Regions from separate parts of the Homo sapiens genome. Here region 1 is linked to region 2. Evidence: fine-mapped expression QTL. Tissue or cell type: esophagus mucosa. Region 2 holds a variant in brackets; the other region holds the start of a gene. All regions are shown on one strand. Distances are between the middles of the regions.

What was found. PIP is the estimated chance that this variant, and not a neighbour inherited with it, causes the effect.
Region 1: PPP1R14C starts here. The variant in region 2 is fine-mapped to the expression of PPP1R14C in esophagus mucosa (GTEx, PIP above 0.99).

Annotation. Positions count from the first base shown.
Region 1 is chr6:150,138,508-150,146,611 of GRCh38, forward strand. PPP1R14C (protein phosphatase 1 regulatory inhibitor subunit 14C) reads left to right here and starts at 4,537. Exons shown (of 4, transcript NM_030949.3): 1 at 4,537-4,991. The coding sequence starts at 4,686.
Region 2 is chr6:150,252,071-150,260,174 of GRCh38, forward strand. No RefSeq gene overlaps it. Among named protein-coding and RNA genes, the nearest start is that of IYD, 110 kb to the right of the region's middle. The variant A/G (reference allele first, on the strand shown) is at 4,666.

The sequences.
Region 1 (8,104 bases), 110 kb before region 2:
GGCAGGTAGGTGGGAGTCAAAGCTGCAGGAAGTTGGAGCTCTAGCAAAAGCACCTGGGGAGGCTGTGAATGAGTAAGGAAAGAGCCCAGGGCAGAACTTGGGAACCACCTACCTTGAGGGCAGGGGTGTAGGAAAAAGAGCCCACAAAAAACACTCACTGTAATGCAATAGATAAAGAGGTAGGAGGAAAATCAGGAGGGTGTTGGTACCTGGAGCCAAGACAGGAGAGAGTTTGAATAGTGAGGAAAGGTTCAAGATTGTTAAATGTGGCAGAAGGTCAAGTTATATAAGCGCTGAAACGCGCACCTGTGCTTGAGCAACACAGAGCTGGCTGGTGACCTCAGTGAGGGCGCAGGGCTCCACGATGAGATGGGAAGACCTAGAGACGTGGGGGAAGGGACACTTCCTCCAGAATGTTTGGTGGTAAAAGCGAGGAGCACAAGAGGCCATTGGCTAGAAGGGAGGATAATTTGCTCCTCTAGAAACAAATTTGAACCTAGTTTTTCAGAAGGAGACAATATACCCCACATGTTAGGCTTACTGAAATGGGCAGAGGTATGTAATTTTTGTTTAAAGGGATGGACAAAGCTATGGTTTTTTTTTCACCCATTTTTCATCATGTCTGAACAGTGAGGTGAGAACTTACGTTAGTTTTTGAGACAAAATTTTAGACTTGCAACAATGATTGCTGTTGCTTTTTTTTTTTTTAATGCAAGCAACGGCCAAATTATTTTGGAATTACGATCCTAAATTGATCCCAGCCTGATACAATCAAAGGTCCAGAATTAGAAGGAGAAAAAGTGGAGAGTGAAACAGTAGCCAAAAGAAAAACTTCACTGATATACTGTCAACAGCTGTGCTGTTATCACTCTGTAAAGAACAATGAAATATTGGAATGAAAATGGAAAATGCTGTGGGTAACCAATGGAATCCTGAAAGACAGATTAAGTTTCTTCAACATTTATAATGAAAACCAGACTGAAAATAATTTTTAATTTGTCTTTTTGCTTCATCAAATCTTGGAGAGGATTCGGATATAGGCATCTTATCATTTGACATTTATTACTCAAGATAAGAAGATTATGTTCAGGTTTGTGGGTCTCCAGGATGCAATTATAACATTGTCAAAGTAGATTACCAGGTGTTGCATAATTATTGTGCCGTTTAAGGAAATTTGCATCTGAGTATAAACATGTGTATTTAATTATTTTCCTGGGGGGTGACAAAAGTTCCAGGACTCCTGATTAAGTCATCCATCCTGTCTAACAACCTTTGGGCATAAAGATCATATTCAGAGATAAAGGACCTATATAATTCCTAAACAAACAAACAAAAAACTTTGTCCAATTTGGGAAGCAAGTAAAACATAACCAAGCTAAGAAAACACAAAACTACGAAGAAAAAGATTCAAATGAAACATCCTTAGGCTGCCCTCTCATAGCAGGGAGTAATTGCCTTCAGGTAAAAGTTGATTCCGGACCATTCAATTCACTGAAAGCTATTCACTGTCTTAGATTAACCAGCACCTAAAAACACTTGACTAAATAGGCTAGAAATAAAAATGTTTTCCTTGAATAAATGTATATATTATTGGTTTTGTAGATGAGAAATACCACTGGTTTTGCCGAATTTAAATAGTCAGCTATGTAAAGGGTCTCTGGACTAGGAAAAATTCCTTTATTCCTAAATATTTTGGCTTCAATATTTGAAATCTGCAAAAGCAGTATTTCTATCTGTCAAAATGAGGCCATTAAGTTTTGATTATTCAAACCTGGAATGAAGTGTGTGTGTCTGGGGGTAGAGGAGATGATATGGACTTCACTTTGAATATAAATTACGTACTGGGTGGAGCAAATGGATTTAAAGAAAGAGGAACCCTGGTTCAATTCTATTTGCCAGTCAAGGTGACTCACTTGAACATCTGAAGGCCAGCGTACCTGTGGAAAGAGACTATTTCCTGGATTTTCTTCTGTGAGTCAAGATGCTTAAAACCCATGTCTTTTAGTATCTGTCATTTTGGAGTTGTAAGGGAAAATTGAGTTTTAAGCATAAAGGAAAAAGCATCTTATGCTGTGAGAAAAAAATTGACATCAGAATTTCTCAGAAAGAACTTAGTGAATTTTTTAAAATTATTTGACGTTATCCTTGAATGACTGATTTCGTTGTCCAAAGACTTAAAGAAAGGAGTTGGAATTCCCCAGACTTTGCCAAACTGTGGGATGGCACAATAGGTATTGTCAGGTCCCAGGGCCAGAATGAGGTAGAGATTTTATGTAGTTTCTCCTTTGTTAATAACATTTAAGCTGTTTTCGTTCTGATTTGCATTCTCCTGATTAGTGCAGTTGGTCAAAGCTGGTGCTAGCGGACTTGGCCAGATGTCTGGAGCCATATAAGCTGATTCTGTGTGGGAGATGCTGGGGCTGGTTCCTGCCCTCCTTTCCCTTCCTCCTTGCAGACAGAGTTCCATTTTGAGGTGGTCACTCTCTTGGCTGTGTGTTCGGGGTTTACAGTGACCCACCCTAAAGGCAGAGGGGCAGAGGTGGTGCAGAGACTGGTCATCGGTCTCTAGGGGCAATCAAGGTAATTCATCTCCCTTGTCCCTGATAGGCTCGGTGCAAAACCCATCTTCTAAAGGGCAGCTGGCCTCTTCTAGCGGGGCAGAGATCGTTCAGCTTTGACCCCTTTGTAATTATGGCAGGAGTCCAGGGCCCCACACCAGCCACCCTATTTCAATCTCCGCAGATCCTTCCCCTTCACATTGTGAGGCTTGACATGTCCCTGTGAAGAGCCGCAGGCATGGAACACTTTGGGAAAATCCCTATTCAGGCTCTCACTGGAAAACCCCAGACTGAGGGTACAAAGGCAATGGATCCTAAGCCTGGGTAGAGCAGAGCTGGGCGCTGGTGGATCGCAGAGCCTGAAGCGCCAGGAGAAACCTGCTGGTTACTTTTATTTTGTCTTTGTAGTGTCAGTCTAGAACCCCACACAGGATCTTCTCCATCATAGGAAAGTGTTCCGAGGAATTTGACTTGGTATCTATTTTATCTCTGAGAAACTTCTTTGAGTAGCTGCCAGTAACCTTTAGGGCTCTTTTATTTAAAAACAACAACAACAACAAACAAACAAAAAAAGTTCATGGCCAGGCGCGGTGGCTCACACCTGTAATCCCAGCACTTTGGGAGGCCCAGGCGGGCGGATCATGAGGTCAGGAGTTCGAGACCAGAATGACCAACATGGTGAAACCCTGTCTCTACTAAAAATACAAAAATTAGCTTGGTGTGGTGGCGAAAGCCTGTAATCCCAGCTCTTCAGGAGGGTGAGGCAGGAGAATCGCTTGAACCCCGAAGTCAGAGGTTGCAGTGAGCCGAGATCTCGCCACTGCTCCCCAGCCTGGGCAACAGAGAGACTCCGTCTCAAAAAACAAAACAAAACAAAACCGTTACTAAAAGCCGCTTACTTGTATTCATTCGGACGTCTCTGTGGTTTCTATCAGTTCCTGAACAGGAATGTATTGTTGTGTACAAGAAGAATATGTTAGTGTCTCCCTAATTTTACACATGCAGTTTTCTGTTTACAACTTCCCTCCCCACCTTATTGTCCTAACCCTTCTGAGAAGCTCCTTCATGTGTAACTACTAGGCTGTGATGTTTTGCAGTAGAGTCAGGCAGTGCTGTTGCCCTCCTGGGTGGAAGGGGCTGTTTGGAATGGGATGGAGAGAAAGCTGGCAGTGCACGGGACGCAACACTAGAAATGTGAAACCAGGACCCTGTCGCCGACCCTCTTAGAGAAATGTTTACTGTCTGGATGCCCCCAGACGCCTTGCCTGAGCGCCGTCACGCTTTCTGCCCTTTGGATACGAAGATATCCGAATGCTGTGCCCATGATTAAGCAGACGCTTAGTAAGGAAAGAAAACATTGGTCTGGAAATAATTTCTCAAGCGCCGTGACTGCCTTATTGCACAAACATCGCCTCTTCGATGTTTCTCACAATCCAGAGAGGAAGTGGCATCCATCGTGGCATGAATAGGAATGTGTGTTTGGAGCCGTGGGGCGGGGCTGGAGGGGAGGGGACGCTACCCAGCCAACAGAGGAGACGGTGGGGCTAGGAAAACCTCCTGGGGGAGCCTGCGGCGCGGTCCTTTCCTGTGTCCCCTTCGCTGCGGGTCCTGCCCGGGGCCGCGCCAGGTGGAGGCCCCGAGAGGCGGCGCGTTTCCTGCGCTCCGGGATTGCGGGAGAAGCGTGAGTCCCTGTCTCCGAGACTAGAGGCCACGGACACCCGCGCAGGAGCATCCCCTGGCACCCCGCCCCACGCCCGTCCTTCCGGAGTCTACACATCGGCGACCTCCCGTGTCTAGGCGCACACATTTCCCGCCCCGCGGAGACTCCCACGCCCCGGGCCCTCTCTGCCGCAGGCGCCAGATCCCGCCTCTGGGGGCTGGACCGAGAGGGTCCTCGGCGGCTTCTTTAAGGCTGCGGTCCCCGCCCCGTCGTCCTCCCCGCCCTCCTCCCTCTCGCCGCGGCTCCTCCCGCCCTCCCAGAGCAGCCGGGCGGCTGGGCGCGCGCGGCGCAGAGCAGGTGCCGGGGAGCCCTTCGCATGCGGCTGCCGGGCCGGAGGTGGTAGCGGCGCCGGGCGCGCTCCGCCCGCCCCTCCTCCGGGCCGCACTGAGGCTCGGGCGCGCGGGGACATGTCGGTGGCGACGGGCAGCAGCGAGACGGCCGGCGGGGCCAGCGGCGGCGGCGCACGGGTTTTCTTCCAAAGCCCCCGGGGTGGCGCCGGTGGCAGCCCCGGCTCCAGCAGCGGCTCAGGCTCCTCCCGGGAGGACTCGGCGCCCGTGGCCACGGCGGCCGCTGCAGGGCAGGTTCAGCAGCAACAGCAGCGGCGACACCAGCAGGGAAAAGTGACAGTGAAATACGATCGTAAGGAGCTTCGGAAGCGGCTGGTGCTGGAGGAATGGATCGTGGAGCAGCTGGGTCAGCTCTACGGCTGCGAGGTACCTGGGCGCGGGGCTGGGAGGGTCGGGGACCTCTCTAGCTCCTCTGTGCCCGCGCAGTAATTTTCCCGGGCTCCAGCTCCGGGGCGCGCATGTCCCTGACTCCCGGGGACCAAGTGCCAGGAGCGAGGCGCGGCGCCTTCTCTCCCCCGCGGTGCCCTCTGGCGTCGGGCTCAGCGGTTGGGACGCCCCTGTCTGGGTTCGGCTGCCGGTGCCCGGGGATCTGCGGGCCCCCTTGGTGGCCGTGGGGAGGGTTGGGTCCCGCGGAGCACAGTGCTTTTCTCCGAGCTCCGGGCGCCTCTGGGCTCCAGCTGCAGCTGCGCAAAGCGGGGCTCGGAGGGGCTCACTCCAGCTGCGCCTCAGCAGCGGTTGGGGATACAGCAGCCAAAGAGAGCAGCGCTCACTGCTGGGATCCGGGCAGCCCTGATTTTTGTGGAGAACGAGCAGGGAAGGAAGGAAGCTGCCTCGTGGAAAGGAGAGGTTCTGGGGATCTCAGAGGCCCCCTTGGTTCTTGAAATTCCCCGTGAAAATCCTGAGATGGAACGCTTTCCGCTTTCCAGCCAGCCCCGACGGTGTCTCCATAATTCCGCCCTGCATTATCAGAGCTGCACACGTTGTGCTTTGTTGAAGCCGTAGTTTTTCCTCTCTAAGCTCAGTTACTCCCATTGATGGGCGCAGAATGAGCATCTGGGGCAACCTCGACGGGTGCCTCGGTGGAAGGGCGGGAGCCCTGCGGGGGGCCTGCGGGATCCCGGGATCTGTCAGCTTCAGGCTCCCAGCTCCCCTCTCCTCCACGACATCGTGACTTCCCAAGGTCCAGGGACTAAGGTCATACACAAGTCTCAGGGACGTGTATACATTTGATTTAGGGAGAAATATGTAGAATAAACTGCAGCAAAACGACTGAAGCCAAAATGATCTCTCATGAGCATCTTGAATAACAGTTATTAATTCTAAATGAAGTGACCTCCTCTTAAGGGAGTGGAGTTTGGAAAGGGTGGAAGCATGAAGGGGTTAATAATTAAGAATGTGGCTTCTAAGCTAAAGCTAGGTTTGTGTTCATTCAACTGTTGTGCTCTTCAACAGAGATGACAACCAGATGAACTCACAGGCTTTACCACTAATGTCGGGTGTTCTGTATTTGACACATTTCATGGCCTGTTGTGAAGACACGTTTTCTTAAACACCCTCATTGCACAAGAAAACAGCATACTCGTTACTGACTACTGATAAATGATTATAATATAATGAAGCTTGACTGTATGACTAATGGGGTTGTAAAAATGTGTTGTTTCTCCAGTCCAGCTCTTACAAAAAGCTAATTTAATTGCATAAATAAAAACTGGCAAACATAAGAAGTATTCATGAGATTTTTATAGGAAGTTGGCAAAACTCTGTAAAGAAACATTATTTGATGTAGATGGGATTACTGTTGGATGAGTGGATGTGCTCAGTCCTGCCTCTGTAGAATCCAGTTAATTTTCATTTATTTCATACTGTTTTTTTTTTCTCCATTTGGGATTTGGAAAAGATTCGAATTAATAGAAAAAGCATTGTTGAAATTAACAGTGCACCAGCATGGTTCTTTTTGTGGGAGACTAATTAGGCTTAGATTGGGAAGCTAGAAAGAGCTCTACCCACTGAGTAGCCTGATAAACAATATATTTAAAAAATACTTCAGAATAATTAGAAAAAATGGAGGTTTGATTGTTTCCTGTGTGGAACATGTAGGTTAGGTATATATTTTAAAGGGTAAACATGAGCTTGAATCTTTTCCTTGTATTGTACTTTTCTTCTTGGGTTTTAAATCTTCAACCCGTAGCAAACAGCTAGACATTTGAAAGGGAGGTTTTTGTGGTGAAATAATTCAAGATGCTCTATATGCTGCCTGCATGTCATTAACGTGGCAAGTATTTTTCTTCAAGTTGTTTGTTCAGTCATTGTAGGCTGAAGGAAGAGAAATAATTAGGTTGTTGGCAATTTGTAATCACTATGCTGGTGGTGTACCTCCATTTAATAATAAAGAAACATGGGCAAATAAGTAGCCAAATAAAGGCTTGTCTCTTTGCATCTATTTCTCTGCTGATAGTGCTCTATTTTTAGCATTGGGTTCTCTTGTTGAGTAACCTTTCTTTGTTGATAGCTTCAAGTATTTCAGCCTCTGGTTTGTGAATCAAGAAGGACGCACCCTAGCTTACAGCTCCGAACTTCATGCATACGAAGATTAGGAAATGTCCTTTTTATACTTAAAAGTGGTAATTCTTTCAAATGTTTAGCCCATGAAAGTGACACAGCCAATTTCCCAGCCTTCAAACCTCAAACCTGCCAAAGGCTTGAGTTATCTGCTGAGTTGGGGTAGAATATGAACACATCTTTAATTTCAGAAGAACTTGACCCAAGCAGGTTAGGAATCAGATGACTTGACCTTTTCAGAATAGAAAATAATCTTTTGGAGCAGTGTAAAGTGATGTATTTAGAAAGAGGAAGAGGAAAGAAGAAATACACAGAACCACTTTCTGTCTGTGTTTTTTTCTGGAAGTGTGCAGTGACTAATCAGTTTTGTATGAGAATAATGTCATAGGGGAATTTATTACCTACCTACTAGGTGACTAGGTGCTCTTCTAGGTACTTTGGGCTAATTCATTTAGTCTTCATAACAACCCTATAAAGAAGATGTTCTTTTTATCCTTGTTTAAATGTAAATAAAGAAGTGAAGACTCAGAGAGGATTAAAAGGCTGCTTCAAGCTCATGTAGCTGGTGGGTGGGTTGGGGTTGAGGATGAACCCAGTCTGGAATCTGAGTCCACTGTATACCCATGAGGCCTGTCTGTACCGTGCAAGAGAGCAAATGTAGGTCTACAAGACATCTGTCTAAATGTTTAAAACTTATGAGTTAAACTAACAACATTTGTATAAAATTTCTTCTGTCCACTGATCTTGACAGCTACATCTTCATAATGACCTTGAAGTCTAGGTTTGCATTTTGAATTCAAAATGTTACTTCCCAGAGTCATGAACTGAAATGCAGTTAGGAGACTGCCCTGGCCTGGGTTTCTTCCCTTTTGCTTCCCATCCTTGGTACAGTCCCACCTGGTAAAGGACACTGTGTCCAC
Region 2 (8,104 bases):
ACACAGCTACAACACTGAGATTCAAACCCAAACCTATTTGGCTCCAAAGTCCCATAACCATTAGACTTTCTTGCCACTCTTAGGGAATTACTCTTAGTCCCACTCACAAGAGTGAACCCCAGAAGCCACATTTAAAGTGAGCCAGGTCCCTGAGCTGGCAGGGTAGGGGAGGAGGCCTTGTGGATGGAGGAGATCCCAGCCACCTGTGGGGCTCTTCCTCACTCCTGGGAACTGAGGGACTCCCTGCTCCCCATCTGCAGTGCAGCCAGGCCCTGTGATGCTGGCCCTCCTTATCCAGAGTCCTCTTGCCTTTTCCCCATAACATAAAGCTCCTGGACTTGGGCTTAGCAGCTGAGCAAGGAGTATCCAGCCATCAGTTTCCTGAGAAAGAGCAGCTCAGGACAAGGTGATTTTCAATTCCTGAAACACAGGAATTAAACAGGTTTTTACTTATTTATCACTGACATAGTTTGGATATTTGTCCTCTCCAAATCCCATTTTGAAATTTGATCTCCAGTGTTGGAGGTGAGAGGTGTTTGGGTCATGGGGGCAGACCCCTCATGAATGGCTTGGTGCCATTCTCCTGGGATTGAGTGAGTACTTACTCTTAGTTCCCTCTAGATCTGGTTGTTAAAAAGAGCCTGGCACCTCCTCCCCTCTCTGTCTTACGTCCTCTCTTGCCATGTAACAAGCCGGCTCTCCTTCTGCCGTGATTGGAAACTTCTGAGGTCCTCACCAAAAGAAGATGCTGGTGCCATGCTTCCTATACAGTCTGCAGAAGCACGAGCCAAATAAACCTCTTTTCTGTATAAATTGCCTGCCCTCAAGTACTTCTTTATAGTAACACAAACAGCCTAAGACAATCACCTAAAGTCTCCATAAAAGATTGTGTGCTGTGCAAAATCAGCTTTTGGAAACCTAAGCTGTTTTTGACATGACTGCTGTTTAGCAAGAGAGTGGCAGGTCCACAGCTACTGGACACATCCCCATCCCTACTCAGCCACCCTATTTTTGCCTCTGAGTGAAAGGTTCTGGGGCTTCCCTCTGCTTCCTGGGAACCTTTCCTGGAATCTAGCCACTTTGAGAGTGAGCCTGTGTAGTCATGAGTCATATCTGTCCCTCTATGGCCCCTATCTACTTCCTTTGACTCTTGTCTTTGGGTGCTCAGAGTCAAGGAGTCAGCACGCTTCAGTGCTGCTGCATAGCCTAAGAGAGAAGTGCTGTGGGTGGCAGGGACCCTTGTCTGTTGTCTAAGAAAACAAAACTCCTATCGGGTAGTTGGAACTTTCTGAAAGCCATTTTCAAATTGGACACAAGCATACCACTATTTTCCCCTACTGGTTTCTCTTTGCTTGAATTAATTTTAACCCAAATAGTCCTGGAGAATTATTCCTCAGAACTAGTCTCATTTCCTTGAGGGCTTGGGGTACAACCCACTGTGTGTTTGTAATTTGCCTGTGAAAATGGAGTGGCTTCTCAGTCTTCTATGAGTGAGAAAGAACAGTGCAGGCTTCATGGAGTTCCCACCCAACCCCACTCAGAAACAAATGCTGGAAATGCTTCACTAATAGCCTTCTTGTGCGGCCATGAAGGCCAACCAGTTCTCTCTTGCTGACTGGAACATCTTGCCTGGGGATGGATTGTTCTTTTAAGACTGGATTGTTCTCTGCCTCCCGTGTCTCTGTGGGTGTTCCCATCACAACACATTAGCAGACATTTCAATAAGACTGATACTAGAACAGCTACAAACGAAGTCCTTGAGAAACCTGCTTTTCTGTTGTTTTATTGAGTCAATTGGATAAATAAGGGCAGATTAGTGTCTGGTGTGTGTTTTCTTCATGCTCAGTCTCCTTGGTGGGGTGTAAATGAAACTAGCGGGGTGGGCTTCTTTGGGCTCACCTTGTTCCAGTGGATTCTAGGAGGTAATTAGTTCCAGCAAGCACAGGGGGTAAAGAAGAGTGCATTCTAAACATAGGCGCTGTATAGACTTAATTGTAATTCAGTGTTCAAGTTGTTAGGAGACATTTCTACATGGTTCTCATGTTTCTGCATGTCTTGTGAGTGAGACTGCCTTTGTTCCAGACCCTTTTTTCAAGAACGTTTATATGTATAGCAAACAGTCTTGGAAGTTAGAGATAGTGTCTCCATGCAGAGCAAAGCTGTCTATTATAAAAGATATGGGTTCCCTAAGTGTCGAGCCCCTTTCCTGGGATGCGACCCACTGCATGCACGGGCGTCATCTGTCCTTCTTTGCAACACCCTAGGAGAACTGGGGCTCGAGAAGTGCCACTACTCTAGCCACTGCTATTGCTGTAACTGTCCTTCCTCTCTGACTCAGGAATGTAGCATCTTCTACCAGCATCTATGAAACTGACAGGCTAATTTGTTAGCTTACAGTAATGTAAAACCTTAGACCCTATACAAGTCTTGACAATGGTCAGTTGTCTTGGTCTCTTTCAATAGGACTTGAATCATTTTTGTCATTAATAGACATTTTCTTATATTTAGACTCTGATTGATTAATCATTTTCAAATGCATAGGGTCGGAAGTTTCCTTTAAAGAGATTTCATGCCTGGAAGTGGTTGTTCTGTGGAAGGAATTTAATTTCACAAAAGCCACCTTTTCTTTTCCTCGTTGTTGGTAACGTGAAGCGAATGTTGCCTGGGGTGAAAAGACTCATGAAAGAGAGATGGAGAGATGGACTGTCCTGGGAGTTTACAGCAAAATTACCCAGTAGAGTGAGGCAGAGAAGACAAGCAAAGATTCTTGCCTCGAATCTTTCTGTTTAAAATATGTATCTACATAATATGAGTGGTGCATCATCACTGGCAATTTTGAAATTCCCCAGTTAATCTCTAGAAGCAGTTTTGTGAACTTACTTGCAGTATCACGGCCCACCCAGTGGTTACCAAAAATAGAAATTGAAGTCAGGGAATATCTGAGGCTACCAGATTGATTCTATTCAGGTCGCTAAATGATTCACATAAAGTGTAACCCAACACACCCTCCGGGTCACAAGATGCTTGAGGGTGAGTGATTTACTATTTGGTTTTCTGTTATTAGTAGCACAAAATTACTCCTTTGGTGTTGATTAGATTTTTAAAAGGGAACATTTCTAACTCAGACCTCCTTTCTGATAGCTCATGGATAAGGGACAAATAAGCTTATTTGTCTTTTCTTAAATATCCTTCTACAGCACTTAGGGTAGCACCTTGCTCTTTTTGGCTGTAATCTCAACATGGGGAATCAGTATGTGTAATCTATAGTGTTTCATCCTCACGGAATACCCCAGAGCCATAGAGAATCACCTCTTTCTGTAATTGGTAATGAGAGAATTAACCAAAACCTCTCAAACTGATTTAAAAAAAATGCATAGTTTTTTTTTCTCCTAATCTTATTTTCTATCTGAAACATCTGTGCTTATTTGAGAGCTGGGAAACTCGCTACTTAAATCTTTAATCTAGGATGTCTTAAAATTATAGTTCATGTGGACTTAGTGAGGTCCTCATAATCTCTGAAACTGTGTAGGAGATGGAACTTAGAAAGGAGAGACAGATTGAGGTGAGCCACACATAGAGCAACAGAGAGAGATGGTGATCCCAAGACAGGATGCTGGAATGAAGAGAGCCAGAGAGTAGCAGACAGGCATGAGCATGTGTGGGAGGGTCCATGCCACATTGGGGTCTCAAAGTGTCCATACCTCGAACAGGTGAAGAGCCAGGACCCAGAGCCTTGGAGCCCAGGCCCACAGGAGACTGCAGCCACCCAGGGAGCCAGGGCTCGGGTGTCCCAGGAATAGCCAGGGTCAAGCTCTGCCTCCCATCCTCAGGCTCAGCCTTCACCTTGATCGGATTTCCTGGTCTCCTTCATTCCCACATCATCCACTCTGCTGAATTCCTTCCATAGATGATCACTTCTCCCCAGGACACCGCCCCAGCAGCAAGTAACAGCCTGCCTGGCAGCGAGCCTTGCACGGGCCCATCCCCACCCGCTCACAGGCACACACTGGCTTGTTCAGGAGGTGGGTTCCAGCTCTCTTCTTCCTCCCTGCACTCCATGTTGGGTTGCTTCGCCTGTGGGTTCTCATGCTTACAAGCCCTTGGTGTAACTTTGCCTCCAACCCGTTCAGCATCACGTCAACTTCAATTGCCAATGCCCTAACCCACTCCCTTATGCTTCCATCATCTTGTTTAGGCTATCAGACAAACAAATTAAGACAGACATGTGAATACTGCCATGCAATACAGAGCAATGGATGGGAGGAAAGTCCATATTTTGTCGTCTTATCTCCAGGAAGAAATGAAGGCGGGAAGAGTAAGAATGATGCCCTGTTCCTTAACAAAACACTTTGTGCATTCTTTATTGTGTCATAGCTGTGCAAGGAAACAAAGCTATTGCATTTTATTTGGGCTGGAAATGTAAAATCTTTAAAATATAACTTTTAGAAGGAAGGCAGTTGCTCTTTTTCCTCGTGTCTTATCATGAGAGTCATTTGATCCAAGATACTGCTCCTTAACTTACGCTTTTTATTTGGAAGAAACACTAACGATACTTCTTAGGGATATTGTACAGAGAAAGTAGGTTGCACATTTAACCTTAGGAACAGAAACTGCTGTTGCTTAAGTACCGCTCACCCTTTCACCACCTGAGATGAAGAATGACTC[A/G]ACCATATGATGAAACAGAGAAAGCCATGTTTCTAATGAGGCCAGAGCCTGAAGGCAGAAACCCTTCAAGAGCTGAATTTCCCATTTTGTTGCCAACAACAAATAAACTCAGTGTTCCTTCAATGACGATTAATCCGGCAAAAACCATGCAGAAATGAAGGAGCTTTAAAATGATCATCATTCATCAACCCAACCATCTCCCTTGGATACCCACTTCATTACTAAGAGAGTAATTATTTTTGTGTTGTCAGTTTTAGGGAAAAGCCCTTGAGGATTATTCATTGGTAATTGGAAAAATAAATGTTAATGTCTTCTGTGGATTAGGAAAGAATGTTTTATGACTAACTGTTTAGACGCTTCTGTTGCATTGCCTGAGTTTGGAAGCTTCATTGGTTTTCCAGCCAAGGCTTCATAAAAGCTTTCAAATTACCTGTAGCTGTCAGAGAGGAGTCTCCTCAAGGAGATGGATGAAGCTTGCCCACGATGCCGCATTCCAGGTTTTTGTAATAATGCTGTGGCAGCCCCATCTTTCTCCCGACTTTTATTTTATTTTATTTTATTTTCTTGAGATGGAGTCTCATTCTGTCACCCAGGCTGGAGTGCAAATGTGCAATCATGGCTCACTGCAACCTCTGCCTCCCAGGTTCAGGCAATCCTCCCACCTCAGCCTCCTGAGTAGCTGGGACTACAGGCGTGCACCACTATGCTGGCTAATTTTTCTATTTTTTGTAGAGACAGGGTTTCACCATGTTGCCCAGACTGGTCTCACTCTTGGACTCAGGCAATCCTGCCTGCCTTGGCCTCCCAAAGTGCTGGCCCCGACTCTTCTTAAATTGTGGTCCCAAGGCCAAGCTGTAGTGCCAGTGATTTTCCTCATTGAGGAAATGAGCTCAGGTTATTAGAAGTGATGAAGTCAGCAGGCCCCCACAGGATGAGGTTTTAGTAGCCACAGGGCTTGAGGTGCAGCCTCTGGGAACCCAATCTCTTGATCTACAAGGGTGGCTCTGGGGAATGTGAAAAAATTGGACAAAAATACTATCTAGCCCCAGCAGGAAGGATTAGGGTGGCCCTTGACAGTGTGGAGTGGTAAATACACCCATAAAAATATGTTGAAGAATGAGGGGCCGGGGTGGAATTGGCTTCCCTCTGTAATATATTGACAAAAGGGCCGGGTTTAGTTTTTCTCTGCAGAATGGTCCAAAGCAGTTGTGGCAAGAACAGGCCCAGGAAGAGCTGGAGTCTCCCTCTTACTATTAATTTTGGATGACCCCATGCAGCACCCATTCAGCCTGTCCAGCTCACATGACTACACACAGGTTTAATCAAGAATCTCTTCCCAGCCGGGGGCAGTGGTTTACGCCTATAGTCCCACACTTTGGGAGGCCGAGGTGGGCAGATTGCTTGAGCTCAGGAATTTGAGACCAGCCTGGGCAACATGGCAAGACCTCTTCTCTACAAAAAAAATATGAAATATTAAGCAGCATGGTGGTGTGTGTCTATAATCCCAGCTACCTGGGAGGCTGTGCTAGGAGGATCACTCAGCCCGGCGGTTGAGGCTGCAGTGAGCTGTGATCGCGCCACTGCACTCCAGCCTGCGTGAGAGAGTGAGAGCCTGTCAAAAAAAAAAAAAAAAAAAAAAAAAAGAAGAAGAAGAAAAGAAAGAGAAAGGAAAAGAAAAGAATCTGCAAGCTCAAACCGCAAGTAATGGGGCCATCAGCTACCTTTTATTGAGCGCTTACCGTGCCACGTACCGTGCACTTGAGTTTATTGTCCACAGAATCTTCATAGTTACACTTGCCTCAGGAGGGGATTGTCTTTCCCATTATATAGATAAGGAAACTGAGGCTTGGAGAGAGTAAGTACTGTAAGGTCATACATTCAGTAGATGATAAAGCTTCTATTTCAAGGCCAGTGATCTGATTACAAAGCCAATTCTGCTAAACTGTGTATAGCTAGTGCTTATACATGGAACTTAGACTCCAAGTTAGACTGTTACCTGGGATAGGGAGGCATGGGTGATCATGTCTTTTGCCTCTTATTTTATCTTGTATATTGTATTAGTCTGTTTTCATGCTGCTGAGAAAGACATACCTGAGACCAGGTAATTTATACAGAAAAAGGGTTTAATGGACTTACAGTTCCACATGGCTGGAGAAGCCTCACAATCGTGGCAGAAGGGAAGGAAGAGCAAGTCACATCTTATGTGGATGTCAGCAGGCAAAGAGAGAGCTTGTGCAGGGAAACTCCCCCTTATAGAACCATCAGAGCACATGGGACTTATTCACTATCACGATAACAGCACAGTAAAGACCTGCTTCTATGATTCAGTTACCTCCCACCAGGTCCCTCCCACAACACGTGGGAATTCAAGATGAGATTTAGGTGGGGACACAGCCAAACCATATATCATATATGTATTAAGGTAAGCCCTAAATTAGGTGCTAGATTAAGCAGTCTGTGGTTCAGGTACACTGATCTGAATATTTCCTCCACAGAACACATTAATCAAACCATGCAAATATATTGCAGGGAAGGGTCTTGCCCAGAACACATTGCAAGGGGGTTAGGGGCAGGGGAGTAGGGTATGGTCTTCATTGTGATTTTCTGTGGGGCTCTAGTGGACTACGGGAGACTGACAGAGTGAAAAGAATACTTGGGCCTATTATAGCCCAGCCTGGTGTCTGAGCAAGTGATTTAATCTGTCTGGCCTTCTTGGGATTCTCTTTATCTATAAACTTAAGAACACTTACCCTGACAATTCCACAGAGTAGAAGGGCTCAAATGAGCAATTAATGTGAAAAGGTTTGGCACAGTGTGAACACATACAGGGGAAAGGTCATGTTCATTAGTCTGGAAACTTAAGTAGCTACAAAGATGTGGTGCCAATCAATGAATCCGTCGATCAGTCAGTCAGTCAAGAGCAGTGATCTTGAAATCTGAATCTAGGGCTGGATGAGGTAGCTCACACCTGTAATCCCAGCACTTTGGGAGGCTGAGTTAGGTGGATCACCTGAGGTCAGGAGTTTGAGACCAGCCTGGGCAACATGGTGAAACCCCATCTCTACCAAAAATACAAAAATTAGCCAGGTACCATGGCACACAGCTGCAGTTCCAGCTACTGGGGAGGCTAAGTCAGGAGAATCACTTGAGCTCAGAAGGTGGAAGTTGCAGTGAGCTGAGATCATGCCATTGCCCTCCAGCCTGGGCAACAGAGTAAGACTCTATCTTTAAAAAAAAAAAATCTGAATCTAGCTCCAGCTCTGCTTTTACTTTCTATGTGGTTCCCAGTGCTGACTTAGGTATCTGCCCCTTGTTTTCTTCGTCTGTAAAATGTAAACAACAGCAAGATTAGAGTTCATGTGTATATAAGTGCATAGATACATAAAGCACCTTACTACTCTTACCTAATTAGGAAGATCCTGCATGCAGTTACTTAGAA